2 separate regions of the Homo sapiens genome follow, and region 2 is linked to region 1. Evidence: fine-mapped expression QTL. Tissue or cell type: B cells. Region 1 holds a variant in brackets; the other region holds the start of a gene. All regions are shown on one strand. Distances are from middle to middle.

Region 1 (8,112 bases):
CACACGGAGGCCTCAGTTACTAAAGAAAGAGGAGTGTTACTGAGATCAGTTACTTCACACCCATTTTACCACATCTCCTCACCCACAGGGTACTGAATGTATCTATCTAGGAGACTGTATTTTCAGTTATAAAACATGATAAAATGTTTCATCAATTCATCCCTTTGGGCTCACTTTTAAATTTTGTTTAAGTTTTTCTGTTAATTTACTATAAATGTTTAATAAATTAAGAGTATATTATTCTCATGAGCTAACACTTCCTCCAAACTATTTTCAACCAATGAATTAAAGGATAATGGAATGCTTTTATCGGGTACATAATAAATGGTCAATGCCACCAAATGTTACCAATTTCCAATATTAGAGACATAAAAAATGTAGAAAGGCTGTTCATTTTATGAGGGGATGGTTGAGTGAATTAATTTTAAAAATATTTACTGGATGCTAGACACGGTGGTAGGTACTGGGGGTACTTAAATTAATAATTAGCCAGGACCCAATGCCCACCCTACATCAATTTCAAGAACAGGAACAATAAATGTAAATACATCAGAAGTATTCAACTTGGGGACTTTCAGGAGAATACAAAAATAGAAATAAGGAGACATTCTTTTCATCCTATTCTGGTTCAATTACTTTGTTCTCTGTACAAGCTGGAGAGCACATATTCTCCCATCATGAGAGAAAGGGTGGCGGTCATTCAACCCAAACCAATCACATGTGCTTTGGGCAGAAACTGTCAATATTAAGGCAAATCACATCCAGTTTATCACAGACTCAGTTAAAATAGAAGGAAAATATTCCCTGAAATATGGTCTCTGATGCTTGGTAACAGTGCTTTGGAGCTTGACAGATGTAGAGACAGCCAATCACCTTTACATCTGCCAAAATATCTATTCTCCAAAGCCAGAAAGATAAAACGCCTAAAACCACAATGTGAAGAGTTGAATATTGAAAATTCCATATGTTTTGCAGGTTGATGCTAAATCCTATGAGAAAAACCAGCACATCGGGGCTCTTGTAACCAACTTTCAGGAAAGGAATCCTAATCTCCGAGAGGCAGGTATAAGAAAGATTACTGTTTATAAAGGAGTATGGCCATGCTGACCTTCAAAGTGGGCAGAGCCACAGCAAGCCACCTCATCAGGTCTGATAACCATGTCCTGGAAATGGGTGATTTGGAGATGGCTGGTAGGGCCAACTATATAAGAGTTGGCCTTATTGGTGAAGTAGCCAAACAAATGAGGATGCTTCAAAACTACCATTCGAGTGAACGGAGTTGGGCAGTGGGGGACAGGATTTAGGGCTGAGCACCTAATTTCTCAATCAGATAAAGGGCAAGGTGGTTCTCCTCCTCCCAGCTTGGGTAGGAAGTGCAATCAGTCCGATTTCACAACAGAGAAGGCAAATCCTCCTATGCTGATGTCTTCTCCTAAAATCTATTCCTTGCTCACTCTATCATAGGCACACTGGCCTCCTGACTGTCCCTTGGTTGTGCTGTGCATGCTCCTAGCAAGGGCCTTTGCACTTGCTGTTCTCTGTGCCTGGCACACTCTTCCCCCTGATTTCCTCATGGCCCCCTTTCTCACCTCCTTCAAGACTTTCCTACTATCTCAGTGAGGCCTAGTGTATTCATTTTTTATTGCAGCCATAACAATCACAACTTACTGGCTTAGTATATATAGGGTGAATTCCCATATACACTTCATGTGGCATAAGACAATACAGATTCATTTTCTTATAATTCTGTAGGTCAGAGAGTCAAAGTGAGTCATATCAAACTAAAATCAAGATGATTCTAAAATCGAAGAGGACAGTCTGTGTTCCCTTCTAAGGGCTCTAGGGGAGGCTCCCTTGTAGGACGGAGGTCCCTGTTTCCTTGCTGTCAGCTGAAGGCTGCTCCTGGCTTCTGGAGACTTCCTGCATTCCTTAGTGCTGGCCCCCGGCCTCCACCTTCAAAGCCAGATATGTGGAGTTCTTCTTCCTTCTTTAAATGTTATGAATGGCATTTATTTAGTAACACTGACATTGGTATTAAAATGGGACTACACATTTAAAAAAATCACTGTATTATAAAAATGTCATAAATTTCTCTGGACTCTAAAATTGAAATAAAATTCATAAACACATATCCTCATTTCTCTAGAGATGGATGCGTCTTATGTAGGTAGAAAGAAAATGAAATGGCTAATATGTACCCAGTTTTAAAGGGTATCTAAGGAAAGGTATATTAAGGACACTCAGTTTTTAATTTGGGCTATAATTTTTTTTTGTTTTTTGAGACAGAGTCTTGTTCTGTCACCCAGGATGGAGTGAAGTGGCGCGATCTTGGCTCACTGCAACCTCTGCCTCCCGGGTTCAAGTGATTCTCCTGCCTCAGCCTCCTGAGTAGCTGGGATTACAGGTGCTCACCATCACGCCCAGCTAATTTTTGTATTTTTAGTAAAGATGGGGTTTCACGACGTTGGCCAGGCTGGTCTCGAACTCCTGACCTCAAGTGATCCGCCCGCCTTGGCCTCTCAAAGTGCTGGGATTACAGGCGTGAGCCACAGCACCTGGCCAATTTGGGTTATAAATTGTGAGTGAGAAAATCACAGAGGTGACATGCCCTTGCATCACTTAATATAAATGGGTACATGATATCCACCTGACTTATCACTAGTGATATTAACCATGATCACTTGGTTAATATCACTTGTTTAAGGTGGTGTCTGTCAACTTTCTCCACCGTAAAGTTACTATTTTTTTCCCTACTCTAATCTTTAGAAATGAATCATTAAGTCCAGTCCACACTGAAGGGGATGCTTTATTTATTCCTTATTTGAAAAAATTTTTTTTAACTTACAGAAAAGTTACAAAAATCCTACAATGAATTCCCATATACACTTCATCTAGATTCACCACTGATAACATTTTCCATATGTGGTTTATCAAGATCTCTCCTGCTCCCTCTACAAATATACATATTATTGCTATTCATATGACTATTTGAACTGAAACATTTGAGAGTAAATTGAAGACATCATAACCTTTTGTCCCATATACTTCATCATGTATACCCTAAGAACAAGCAATTCTTTCATCTTCATAGTACAATGACCAATTTCAGGAAATTTAATATTAATATAATGCTATTATCCAATATAGAGACCAGCACTTCCACTTCTGTCTCTGATGGAGTATCTGGGACTAGTCCTCTTGCCTTAACTGTAAAACTGGATGAAATATCAAAGGCAAGTGTTTTCAGACATTGGCGAACAAGCAATACGAGGCAGAGTAGGCAATGCAAGACTGCAATCAATCCCTGAAGGCAGGGAAACCTAAGAGGTGAACGTCATGATGAGCCTGGCTCCCTGCCTGGGGAAATTTTCCTAACTGCAGAGTAGTGATCCAGAATGCACGCAGAGCACAGCAGTCCCTCTGAACTGAGGAGGAAGAGATCAGAGGTTGGGGCAGCTGAAGTGCCAGAATCTGCAAGGCAAGGTCCCAGGGAGATGGGAGCTGTGCAGGTTACAGAAATAAAATTATGAGTTCATACTAATACCTCTACTTCCAATATAATTGCACTAGGCTTTCCCTAGCCTTCCCCCAGCCCATATTTCTGGCTCCCTTTCAGAAGCCCGGTTTGAGAGCAGACAGGCAAAGTCACCATTTCCACTGTCCAGTTTCCTAGCCAAGGGAAAACCTGCCAGTGATAAGGTGCGTAAAATGAGGGATGTGGCCCAAGAGTCATTGGTTTGAAACCCAGAGAACTGATGACGTAAAACTCAGAGAATAACAGATTTAGTAAGGGTGCACCAAACATAAATAGAAATGTAGGGGGTAGAGAACAGCATATTTGCCATCTAAAGCCCCAGTTGTGATATTCTTTAACAAAAATTCCCAGTTATTTAGTTGTAGTTTTTTTAAATTGACTCACTTATTACTGCTTACCACAGCTCCTTCCTTTCTGAGTACTGTATTTTGATTCCTTTCTTTATTGTCTGGTGTCCATCTTTCAGTAACTTTTTTCAAGAAAGCTTCGTGGATTTGGTCTCCCTTGGTTCCATGATTATCACCTTGGCCACATATCGTAATGAACTTGAAAACTTTTGAAAAACTACTGACTTTTGGGCATCATCCCAGACCAATTCAGTCAGGTTCTCTGAGGGTAAGATCCATGCAACAGTATTTT[A/T]AAAAAAAATTCCTCTAGTGAGTCTAATATGCAAATGAATATCTCCAATCTCAAATAAATTACACAAACAGGCTCTCTTAGTGGGGCAAAGAAAAACCAAAGAAAGTTGCAAGTGAAGTTCAAAAACACAGGGTTGATTTGAGAATGTTGGTTTGTTGCCTTTATACTAAAGGAACTCCTTGGATTTTTTTAAAAAATGCATCACTTTTTTCTTTCTCTCACAACTATATAGGCTGGTGCATTTCAAATTTTAATGTGCTTTGGTCCATTGGAATCATCTTTGCATCTGGTCAAAATGCAGATTCTGATTCAGTAGATCTGGAATGGCAACTGAGATTCTGCATTTCTAATAAGCTCACAGGCGATGCCAATGCTGCTGGTTCATGGACCACACTTTTGAGTAGCAATGGTATAAATCCTGCTCCTCTGCCTTCTGTAATAAGAATTGCTTTGGAGGAATCTGGGGATACCTGAACATGGCCATTGTTTCCCTCTTGAGTGGCTTGCTTCTTTTTCCTTGGATGTTAATATGATTTTCTTCTTATCTTTGAAATTCAGATATAGTTAGGTTACATGTGTTAAGCCATAAAATAACGATTCCCACATTGATATTGCATTTGCCTCTGAACCCTTTTTTGTTCTTGTGCCTGTGAGGCCTAACTCCACAAGACTTTCAGCTCTTCCTGAGGACTTTTCATAGGATTGACAGGATGCCTGGCCTACCTAGTGACTGAGATTCTGGTTTCCTTATTTATGCATTTGTTACAATCAAATGGGTTTGTTCTTTGCAACCAAAAAAAATTAAAGACTATGGATTTTAAACCAGACAATGTAAAAATAAAGACTGCATAGAATGCTGTGGCAAAAAGCAACATTAATGCAAAAAAAATTTAGTTATAGTGGTGACTGGCAGAAAGAAGGGCAAGGGCAAAGAAGATTCCTGTATTCAATGGGCTTCTTACAAGTCATTATTTGAGCTAGGTTGAATGACAGACTTGTAAATAAGAGAAAAGGGTTAAAAAAAAAGTTATGGTGCCAAAAAAGAGAGGAAGAAAAAATAAAAGATTAGAATGTGATGCTAAATGATGCTAGAATACTTTAAACCAAGTAAAAGCTGTAAATTAAGAAATAAGAATAAAAAATTTTAAACGAGTAACAAGCCAAATTTTAAACCAAGAAAACTATTTTTAAAAGCCCTAATAAAACAGAAGTATGAGCTATAAGATAAATGGAATAAAGGTTGGAGCAAGAAGATAAATTTAAAAAGAAAATTAGAAGGTTAAAATAACTAAGGTCAAAGTTAAAAATGAGGTCAGTTATGAAATAATTTAAAGCAGATATTCTAAGTAAGTAAAGGTTGAAAGCCAACAGGGTAATAAGGTAAGATTTAAAATAGGACATGAGATACTTTAATCCTTCATGAGAGTAGGATTAAAGATAAAAATAATCAGATGATTTATATGGATGTTAAGATATCATCAAACATAAAAAAAAAGTTTAAGTTAGAAGTAAAAAGAAGAGAAAACATACAAGGAGTAAGAGGGCTTGGAGCTTATCTGTCTTTTCCCCCAAAATAATCTTTTAATGGAGTAGTGGTGTCTTAATGGGGTAAAAACCCAAGAGGACAGAGAGCAATGTGACACCTTGGTCATGGAGGCTCCCCTTTGCTCCCCTCAGCAAGTACCAGAATGCCAGCCTCACCAGCAGTAACCAGAGAAGACAGACAGGAGGTTTCATACAGCAAACTCACAGCTGGATGGCACCAACCTGACCCAGGAGAAACTCCCTGGCCTGCCAGCTACATTCCCTCCTGGATTATCTCCTCCAAATTTAGCCCATGCACAGAGTCAGGGGAACTACCCTCTCGAGATCAATAACCTATGAAAACTCAGGTTTCAACAGTTGTCTCGTGTCTCTAGAAAGTTTAAGGACTGGCCCAGCCTCCAGAGTTTTTAAAAAGGTATTTATTCAATAAATGTTTATTGAGCCTCTTCCCTGTCCCAGGCAGCGTACTAGACTCCAGGAATGCGATGATGAATGAACAACAGATCTCTCTTAACAGAGGTCCAGACTTGTTACATGCGGCGGATAGGGAAGTTTTAACAGGTAGTTTCAATGCATCACCAACGGCACAAGTGGAAGCCTTGGCTTTGAGCAGGAGGAGGGTCACATTTCCTCTGCAGCTGGAAGGAAAGTGAGGACACGGGAGGAGGAAAGCAGGGAGGGCTGAAAGCTGGGGAAAGCATGACCATTGGCAGAATTTTCTTGGTGAAATAGGGGTTTTCCTGAGAGAGAGGAGTCTGGAAATAAGCCGAGGTCTTGGGTAAGTGGGAGAGAGAGGTCTGGGAGGGTCATAAGGAAATTCGAGAAGGAGCTAAGAACAAGTAAACAGTCTGACAGACAGCAGTGCAGGCCAAGCGAAGGCTGGAGGTGGTGCCAATCTGCCTGACAGGACTGTTAGGGCGTCCAGGTGCTGGAGACATACACAATTAATTACAATACAATGTGAAGAGTCTCAATGTGACAGGATGATTTACTGAGACGTTACTCTCTGTCTGTTCTCCTTGCATTTCCCCCCTCAACCATTTTCAAGAATGGCTCTGGGGCTAGTTACATCAGGGGAGTTTTGAAGCAAACCTCCTACCAGGCCCTTTATTTTTTTCTTTTTTATAGCAGAGGTCTCAAAGCAGCCTTCTCCAGATTGAATAATACTTTAACAGATAGATTTCATTTGTAATGAATAGTGTTTTGAAGTTTTCAAAAATAATTGCCAACATTTTGAAAGTAGATTTCACATAAAATCTAGATTTCAGCTTTTCCTGGAAAAATTGGATGATCTCGCAATACTGGGCCTACGTTTTCACCAGGCTGCAATTGCTTGGAGCTGAGTAATGTCTGTCCCTTTTAAAGGAGGCGCAACCTCCAGTTCACTCTGGTCCCTACCATTTTCTCTGCCAATACCATTCATTCAGGTTAGCTGCCTGGTCTCTGCAGCCCTCTCTAAATAAAGCTGGAAATTATGTTAGGGGGAAGGAGTGGAGGCAGAAGCAATAAGCAGTGGGGCACAGGTGTGCAGCTCCTTGGGCGTGGCAAAGCCCAGGAGGGGAATAGGGACACAATGCCCCAAAGGCCTAGGACTTCCAGCATCAGCAAAGACTCCTACCTAGAAAGTGACAGAGAAGGCAAGGATACCAAACAGCAGGCTCTGACACTGACAATTATCTAGGGCAGTCTGAGAAAGAAGGGGTCCTTCCCCTGGTTCCTGAAATCCCGAGTCCTTGTGAAAATCCTAGAGAGTTTGGGGAGGGGAGGGGGACAGGAGAGTCCACAATGACTGAGATCATTTTCCAACAGCCCTTGGGGAAGTAGCGTGAAGTCAGACTTAATGAGAGAAAATAAGAATATCCATCACTTCTTGTACATGCACGTTTGTGGAATAAGATGTTAAACATCAAAATGGAGATTTAAAGAAAGGGCTAAGAGTAAAGAAGTGGGTGAGGTTAAGTTTTGACTAAAATAGTTATGGAAGTTTTCACAGAGGAGGTGCAATTTGAGCTGAGTTTTGAAGGATGAGTAGGAGGTATCCAAATGTAAGTTAATCTACCTAAAGACAAACATTTGAGAGTGCAAAGCATATTCAGGGAACTTGCAGTAGTTCCGTGCAACTAGGCCATTAGATGCTCATCTTTCGGTGGGGGAAAACAGGACAAGGAAGGAAATGGAAGAGAGTGAAACCAGAAGGGAAGGTTTAAGCCTTCACACATTCTTCATGACTGTATGAAGTATACTATGCTTTAGTATACCTTCTGTGTTTAGAAAGTTAATTGACTGGGCGCGGTGGCTCACGTCTGTAATCCCAGCACTTTGGGAGGCCAAGGCGAATGGACCACAAGGTCAGAAGTTCGAGACCAGTCTGCCCAACATGGTGAAACCCTGTC
Region 2 (8,112 bases), 150 kb before region 1:
GAAGATCACAGACTCTTTTAAACATCCAGATCTTTCATGAACTCATTACTGCAGGGAAGGTACATAGCCACACAAGAGATTCCCCATCACCCAAATACCTTCCACTAGGTCCAACTCCAACATGGCGGTCACATTTCAACACGAAATTTGGAGGGAAAAAACATCCAAACAATATCACCATCTTACAGGCTGGTGTTGTCTGGTGGGCTGTTTGGGAAATACTGGTCTAGACACATTTCTCAAACTTGGCAATATGACTCCACTGGACATTAAAAAGGGATTTCCAGGTATTTCAAGATAAAGGGATTTATTCTCAGGAGCTGCAAACATAAGCTAGGTTTTCTTACAGTGTTAACATCTTGGTTTCAGTTACACGGGTCACCAGATTGATACAGATTTAGCTGAGGTAATAAATCACTGCTTCAGCAATCTTAACAGTCAAGTCAGTTATCTAACGATGATTTGACAAGTAATGAGGTCACCTGCCATTTCCTCCCATAAGTAATTCAACTGCATTTAGTTCATAATACATATGGCTAGAAAAGCATCTAAATCAATTCCTACGATCAGAGAGAGAGATGTCCCCATCACCATGAAGCAGAAGTTACAAAGAAATGGGGGAAGATGCTATGCAGTTGGCCTTAAACATAGAGAAAGGGACTATAAGCCAAGGAATGCAGGTGGCATCTAGAGGCTGAAAAGGGCAAGGAAATGGATTCTCCCCTCGATCCTCCAGAAGGAACACAGCCCACACTTTGATTTTAGATTTCTGACCTCCAGGTCTATAAGATGATCAATTCATCTCTCGATATGGCCTCCTCCTGTTCATTGCCACTGCTCTCCAGTTTAGACTCTCCCTTGGATCTGCCTCTTTTCTGAATCCATCCTCTCAAGTTGTTTTCTTAAAAATCAAATCTTATTATGTCACAGGGTTTGAAGTGCATGAATACTCACTGACTCTAGTTAGGCTCCTTTCCTGGAATATCATTAGAAACCAGAAGTAAGGGTTGTTTACAATTCCCATCAAGGACATTTGGTGTGATCTCAGGAAGGCTTAACAGGGATGTGATTATAGCTACCAAAAAAAAAAAAAAGCTTAAAACAAATTGTACTACACTCTGAAGAAAGAACGCATTAACCAAATGGGCTAGGTAGGGTAAAGATTTTTCTGCACTTATCCAGCACTGAATGGAGGCAAATTCACTGACTTTGGCAGCCATCAGTAAGACTGGAGGTGAGGATACCTGGATTTTTAGGAAGGGTTTTTCCTAAATAGTAGGTATTGTTATCCAATCAGGAAGTTCTGTCCTGATATAAATGCTCATCATATAAGAGTTAGTTATCAAGAGTCAGTCAACTTGCTCACCTCTAGATGTGGTAATACTGAGGTCCAGATCCTCCTGGTGATCAACACAAACTGGATTAAGAGTCAGCTACTCAGTCAGATCCTGAATCCTGGTCCAACGATAACCACACTCTTGCCTGCTACCTGCTTCAAGAAGTACACAAAAGAGGGATCACTACCACAGCCAAAGAAAGGAGGAAAGTTTTTTTTTTTTTTTTTTTTTTTTTTTTGAGATGGAGTTTCGCTCTTGTTGCCCAGGCTGGGGTGCAATGGCGTGATCTCGGCTCACTGCAACCTCTGCCTCCCAGGTTCAAGCGATTCTCCTGCCTCAGCCTCCCAGTTGCTGGGATTGCAGGCATGTGCCACCATGCCCGGCTAATTTTGTATTTTTAGTAGAGACGGGGTTTCTCCATGTTGGTCAGGCTGGTCTCGAACTCCCAACCTCAGGCAATCTGCCAGCCTTGGCCTCCCAAAGTGCTGGGGTTATAGGCATGAGCCACCGCGCCCGGCCAAAAGGCAGAAAGTTCTAAGAAGGAGAGGTCAACATTGGCAAATGCCACAAAGGGCACAAGATGGGAATTAAATTTTTCCATTAGATTTGGCAATTAAGCAATGGCTGATGTTGTTCAGTGGAGTGAAAGGCTGAGAAGGGAATGAGAGGTTAGGAAACATTCACCTTAAGGCTAGGCAACTCCTTTGAAAAGAGTCAAGTAGGGTTAAGGGAGGATCCATGCCCTCCAGGTTGACTTTTAAATCATATTCCCTTTGGTTTTGCATTTGAATCACAGTGAACTTTCTCCTCTCCAAATGTTGATTTGACAAATTTGAGTCTTACCATGGCTCTCTTCTCAGTCCACCTGCAGGTCAAGGAACTAATGAGGTGTGGAGTAACTAAAGGTCAAAAAACAAGAGGAAGAAACAAAGGGCCAAAAAACCCCAAACCTTAAATCAGGTCCTGAGTCAGATACGCTGTAACAAATTCTGCTTCAAGTTTAATATTCTTGTTTTGATGATGTTTAAAAAAAGAAAAATAAAAGCAAGTGTCTGGAAAATTAAAAGGCGGGGTGGGGGGGGGCATTTTAATTGGAATGCTTTCTTGTATCTCATCCACTATCCGCACCCCATCGCCCTGCAAATTAATAGCTGTTGCGGAGTTGGGGTATGTGTGACCACAAAATCCAAAGGCTGAATTTTGCCCAGTGCCTGAGTAATTGCATGCCACACACAAAAAAACAGTAGAATATTGAAAACAACATACACATCTGTATTTCCATATGAAAGCACCCGTTTCCTTTCTTGATTATCTGCTATTTTTAAAGGGGTTGGGAGTGCAGCGGGGCGGGGGGATGAGGCGTTTTTTCTGAATACGAGCCCAGCTCTTTCTAAACTTTTGTTACTCACGTCCGTTTGATTCATTTGCTGTGTTTTTTCTTTCTTTCTTTTTTTTTTTCCCCTCTCCTGCCTCTGTCATTGCCTGCTGCTAAGAGGGACGCTGAATCACAGCCACTGCAGATGAAAAGCAATTCAAACCCAGTCCTTGGAGGGGGGATGGAACGGCTCTTTTTGATTTTTTTCCCCTCTGCAGAAAAAGCCTCCTACTTTCCGGGTGACCGTAGAGGGCAGTTTGACAAGTCTCAGCCCCGGGCGATGGAAGATTTTGCCCGTGGGACCGTCACGAGCCACCGGTCATCTCCCCGCGCCCGGCTTTCGGGTCCTCAGGCCTCGGTGCGTCGCGGGCCAGGCGACAGCGGGGGGGCGTCGCGGGCCGGGCGAGCGTGGCCCGGTGGGCCCGAGGGTCGCGCCGAGCTCCCCGCCGCTTTAAAAGCTCCCACAATGCAGCGCTGGCGTCCCAGTTCCGTTACGAGGTCTCTCCCGGCGCCGGCGAGCGGGCCAGGCGCGGGCGGGGCGCGGAGGAGCGGCGGCTGAAACCCGAGCGCCCGGCCGAGGGGGGCGCCCCCGCGCCGCTCCTCTCGCGCGCTCAGCCGCTGCCCGGCGAAGGGGCGGAGCCGCCTGGCCGCCCGGCCCGGCCCGGCCCGGCCCGGCCCCCAGCCCGGCCCCCAGCCCAGAGGCACCGGCCGCGGGAGCGAGCGGGTCGCCGACTCCTACGCCCGCGCTCCTCCTACGCCCGCGCTCGTCCGGCGCCCCGCGCCGCGCCCCGCTCAGCGTCTGCCGCCCAGCTCCTCGCCCAGCCTCGCCGAGCCTCGCCCTTCCCGCCCGCGGCGGCGTTGGCGCTGGGGGCGGCTCCCGCGGCGTCTCTGCCGCTGGCCGAGCGCTCGCGCACCGCGGCACCCCCGCCAGTGGCGTCCACACTCACCTAGCGCGGGCCGGGAGGTGCGCGGAGAGGGAACGCCGGGGGGCCGGGGCCTCCAGCCGGTGCGGGGCGCGCGGCGCGGGGAGCGCCGGGGAGTGCCGGGGAGTGCGGCGCGGGGACGGGCGCTGGGCGGCCGCGGAGCTCCGGGTGCCGCCGCGTCCCCAGCGCCCCGGCCGGCCCCTCTGGGCGGCCTGCGGGGGCGGCGCAGTTGCGAAACTGAGTAAGTATTAACTTTACTTAGCGGCGGCGATCCGGGCTGCGCCGGGGACCCCGCCCGTCCCGCCTGCAGCCTCGGAGCTGCCCTCCGCCCGGTTGCCCCTCTCTCCGCACCTTGGGTACCTCGTCCGTTCCGCCCCCACCCTGCCCCGCCGCGGGCTCCCGCTCCCTCTGCGTTCACCTTTCCTGGTGTGTCACCCTTTGCGCCTCTCCTCGCGGCACACAAGCCGCGGACTGAAAAGTACGAGCTTGGTCTTTGCTTTTCTGCTTCCTCCCAGTGTCCTTGGCAAGGGAGTTTAGAGGCCACTTTTCTTGCAAAGGGAATTTTATGTCTGGTTTTTAAAATATTTTTTCCTCCGGATGGAAATCGGATGCTCGCTTGCCGGGTGGCGGTTTGGTGAACGCTTTTCTCCTCTAAAAAAATATTGGTTTATAGGTTTTTAAATTTCATTTGAACTATTAACCATCTGCATTCTATTCTCCTTTGCCGCCAGTCCCTTTGGGGAGGGGAGTCCAGAAGAGGGGACGTTCAAAGTAATTCTGACTTGCAAACTAGAAAGTTTGAGAGGGTAAATCGCACAAAGCCGGAAGATTCAACTTGAAGGGACGCGAGCTTTGAATGTGGGTCCTGGTGCGGCACTGGGTTTTAAAAGATGAGTACTTGGGTTCGGAATCCAGTGTTGCGTTGTTATTTTAGCATCATAGAGCCGCCTGGTGTTGCTAAACCACTACTTTCCCAGCCTCAAATGGCATCTTGAACAGTGCAACGTAGGATATATAATTGCGGGTCAATATTGTTGCTGATCTTTAGGGATTTAGAAGCGAAATGAATGCAAATCACGTCTCATAGCTGACTTAAACCTGTCAGGTTAGCCCTGTCAGGTTAGCATTAAAGCATTTCATTAAAAAAAAAAATCCTCTAGCCCTGTGACAGCAGGGACGAACATTTATGGATTTTCCAGTAGATTGTGGCTCAGCAATTCATTAGATCTGCTTTGTCCCCAGGAAGCATTTTAAAATATGTATAAATCTCTGCTTTTCTCTCCATTAGATTAACCACTCATTCTGGTAGGGGGCCCCAGGTAGTTTTTATTTTCTTTTTTGCCTTTCATCTTGGAGTTGCCAGGAGTTGCCATCATGTTATGAAGGAACAGAAAATGAGAAGCTTTCTTAATGGGTTTTCGACATCCTGTCCTTTGCCAGAGTGAGGCGGTAGTGAATGCCAGCCAGCTTTCTGCAGGGAGAGGTGCAGGGTGGACGCAAAAATCAGGACGCAGGAGACAGCACTATCATTTGGGGAAGTGGTTTGTGTGAGTTTTATCTTTTAGCGGGCATACTAATGGTACTTTTAATTTTATTTATCTCTATGAGGCACACTCCCCAAACCATAAAATTACACATGACCATCCCCCACTTGAAGAAGACTGAACATAGTTTGATGATTATTCTATTCAAGGATCAAGTACAACAAAATATAATTTGTAATACAGATGATAAAACCTTTCAAAAATCTCCCCCTTCCTCATTTTTTTCCTCAAGAGTCTCCAGGTGGTACTTTCTGTGATGGACACAATTGGCAGTAATGCACTGAGTTCTTTCTAGGTTTATTGATCAAATCTTATGTCTGGGCTTTAGTAGCTTAGGGGTGCATTAGAGGGCCCTGAGAGGGAGCAAATCATGGGGCTGTGCAGGCAGGAAAGGCACTTCACTTTGCAGAAGTGTCAGTGTGCTTCTGGAAAAAACAGTTACAAAGAACAGAGAGTGTTTAAGTTGTTTATAGGATGCATGTTTCCTGAATTTGGCATTTGGTTCAGATATTTGGTAATTACAGATTTAAAATTCGACATGGTTGTATAATTTGTTTTGCCTTTTATTTATTTTTTTAAGGTTGCAACCTTTTAACCTGAATCTTCAGTGTTTGGCTCTTGTAGGCTTCTATACGTGGTGACTTACGTCAGTTTTTGACCTGACTGCCTTGTGTTTTGAGAAATGATTAGTTCTTCAGGGTTTCTGACTCATTAATTGATCTGTTTTATGTTGATGTATATAATGACTTGGAAGTAAAAATATTGTTTGCCGTGGGATATTGTTGTCTTTTTCTTATGGTTAATTCCTGGCATAATGGCTTTGCTCCTTTATTATAAAACATTAAGATCTTAGATATCTTGCTAGTGTTCAAAACATTACAAAACTCTTTGCAAGTAAAAGTGGAGTGGGAATGGGAGTTGGATAGAAAAACATGCATCATAAATTAAAGATTTGGATTACAAAATAATATAACGTTTATTTACTCTTCTTTGATGCTAACTTGCTCTAACCCTAAATAGACTTAAAAATTCAAAGTGTAGAGAGAGTTTCCAAGTATTCTGTATAGTGGAAAGAATGTTTACCCCACTGCCAGCCAGACTTGGGTTGCACGTGTGACTTTGTCACTCCCGAGGTGAGTGAGCTCGGCCATGCCACTTCAGCCTCTGTGATCTACAGTTGCATTTCTGGAAAATGGGGATACCACTACTTAAAGGGATGCTATGGTGAGTAGAACATCTAATATATATTAGATGTGCCTGGCACATTTCAGCCAATAAATGACAACATCTCAAACTCCTTCAGAATTGAGCTCTTGGTCACTCAAACTTTCAAACTGTTCCCCCTCCATTTTTCATCTCATCCATCCAAGGAGTAGCTCACTCCACTCTCTCTTTTCTTCTATCAGCCCTAGCAAACCAGTCCATCATAAAGTCCTGCTGTCCATTTTTATTGCAAAATCTCTTTCAAACCGGTCTGATTTTCAGTCCCCACTATTCTGCCATCCTAATGCAAGCCACTGTACTGTATTATCTTTTTCCTTGGTGCGGTGCCTCCTGCACACACTCTGCACCCCTTGCAGTCTGTTTTACTACCAGCAGCCTGAAAAAAAAAAGAAAAAGTATTTGCCGTCTTAAAGTTGTCAGGGCTCTCAGGAAACACATTTATTTATTTTTGGGATAAGATACCAAATCCTTGACATTACTTCAGGATCCTGCATGATTTGATCTCTACATCCACTTGCATCTCTTGCTGTCATCTTGGCCAGTTCTCCAGCAGACTAGCCTCAGGCCTGTGGCTCATGCTGTTGGTCTCCCTATTTTAGGATCATCTCCTTGAGTAACTTATCATCCTTGGGTGCTAGCTCAAATGTCCTTTCTCATAAAGGTCTTCTCTGACAAGCCCACCCTTATCGTCATGCGAATTAAATGTCCTTTATTTTCTCCCTCATAGCGTAATCACTTTTGCTTCTGAATATTTACCACAATTTATATATTATTTAATCACTTAGGGTCCTTTTCTTGCCCTTTAGGTTAATATGAAGTTGATAATACCTGGTTTAATCACCAGTGCCCAGTATATGTAGTAGGTGCTCAATAAATATGTTGATATAATGAGTAAGATCGTAATATCAGTTTGTATCTTTATCTTTTTTTTTTGAAATGGAGTCTTACTATGTTGCCCAGTTGGTCTTAAACTCCTGGCCTCAAGTGATCCTCCTGCCTCAGCCTCCTGAGTAGCTGGGACTACAGGTGTGTGCCACCATGCCTGGCTTCTGTATTTGTATCTTGATTGCCTTCTTTATCACTGTTAAATTTGCTTTTCATGATAGAAAAGCCAGACCCACACTTTTCTATATTCCTTCTTTGCTGGTTATATGTATAATATGAAACGGCCTTTGCAAATATCAGGTAAAAATGCATGTAGGTTCTGTGAAATATTCGTAGTAATAAATTGAGACACCTTTTAATTAGTGTTACCCTTGTGACTTTCTGTTGTACATAATCCTTTTTCTAAATACATCATTAAAATAATTATTTTTTTATCAGCATAAGCTTACTGAAAGGAAAAAAAATCTTACTGTGCCTTACTATTTTACAGAGCGTCACATGATAACACGTTAGTCAGCTGCTGTCGGCTGGTGGTGCCAGACATCAAAGGAAGATTGGGAAAACTTTAGTAGAAAAACAAGACCTAGAGTTCTAAGGATGCTCAGTGCTGTCCAGCTGTTGATGTGACTTGCATGGTAACCAGACATCACTGGACCATACACTTAAGAGAGAGGAGGAGTTTTTTTTAAAAAAAGTGGGAGCCACCTAGAAGTCTGGAAGTTCTTTTCTTCTCTCTCACTAAAGCATTCCTTGTTTTAGCCAAAAAAAAAAAAAAAAAAAAAAGTCTCATGACCTTCCAAGGCCAAGGAAGGCTTACAGCTTTG

Alleles and levels. Positions count from the first base shown, and alleles are read on the strand shown. Sizes are in standard deviations (SD) of each study's normalised expression.
With allele A in place of T in region 1, the expression in B cells of the gene that starts at base 3,410 in region 2 is lower (large effect, 1.6 SD a copy in Fairfax 2012).

The links. PIP is the estimated chance that this variant, and not a neighbour inherited with it, causes the effect.
Region 2: it holds the start of RASSF8, and the variant in region 1 is fine-mapped to the expression of RASSF8 in B cells (Fairfax 2012, PIP 0.95).

The regions. Positions count from the first base shown.
Region 1 is chr12:26,103,192-26,111,303 of GRCh38, forward strand. No RefSeq gene overlaps it. Among named protein-coding and RNA genes, the nearest start is that of BHLHE41, 18 kb to the right of the region's middle. The variant A/T (reference allele first, on the strand shown) is at 4,175.
Region 2 is chr12:25,955,273-25,963,384 of GRCh38, forward strand. RASSF8 (Ras association domain family member 8) reads left to right here and starts at 3,410. Exons shown (of 6, transcript NM_001394098.1): 1 at 3,410-3,876. It overlaps RASSF8-AS1 (RASSF8 antisense RNA 1), which reads right to left and starts at 4,170. Exons shown (of 4, transcript NR_038228.1): 1 at 4,054-4,170; 2 at 1,367-1,492; 3 at 955-1,075. RefSeq lists silencers at 3,022-3,511, 3,612-3,711, 3,782-3,831, 3,972-4,021.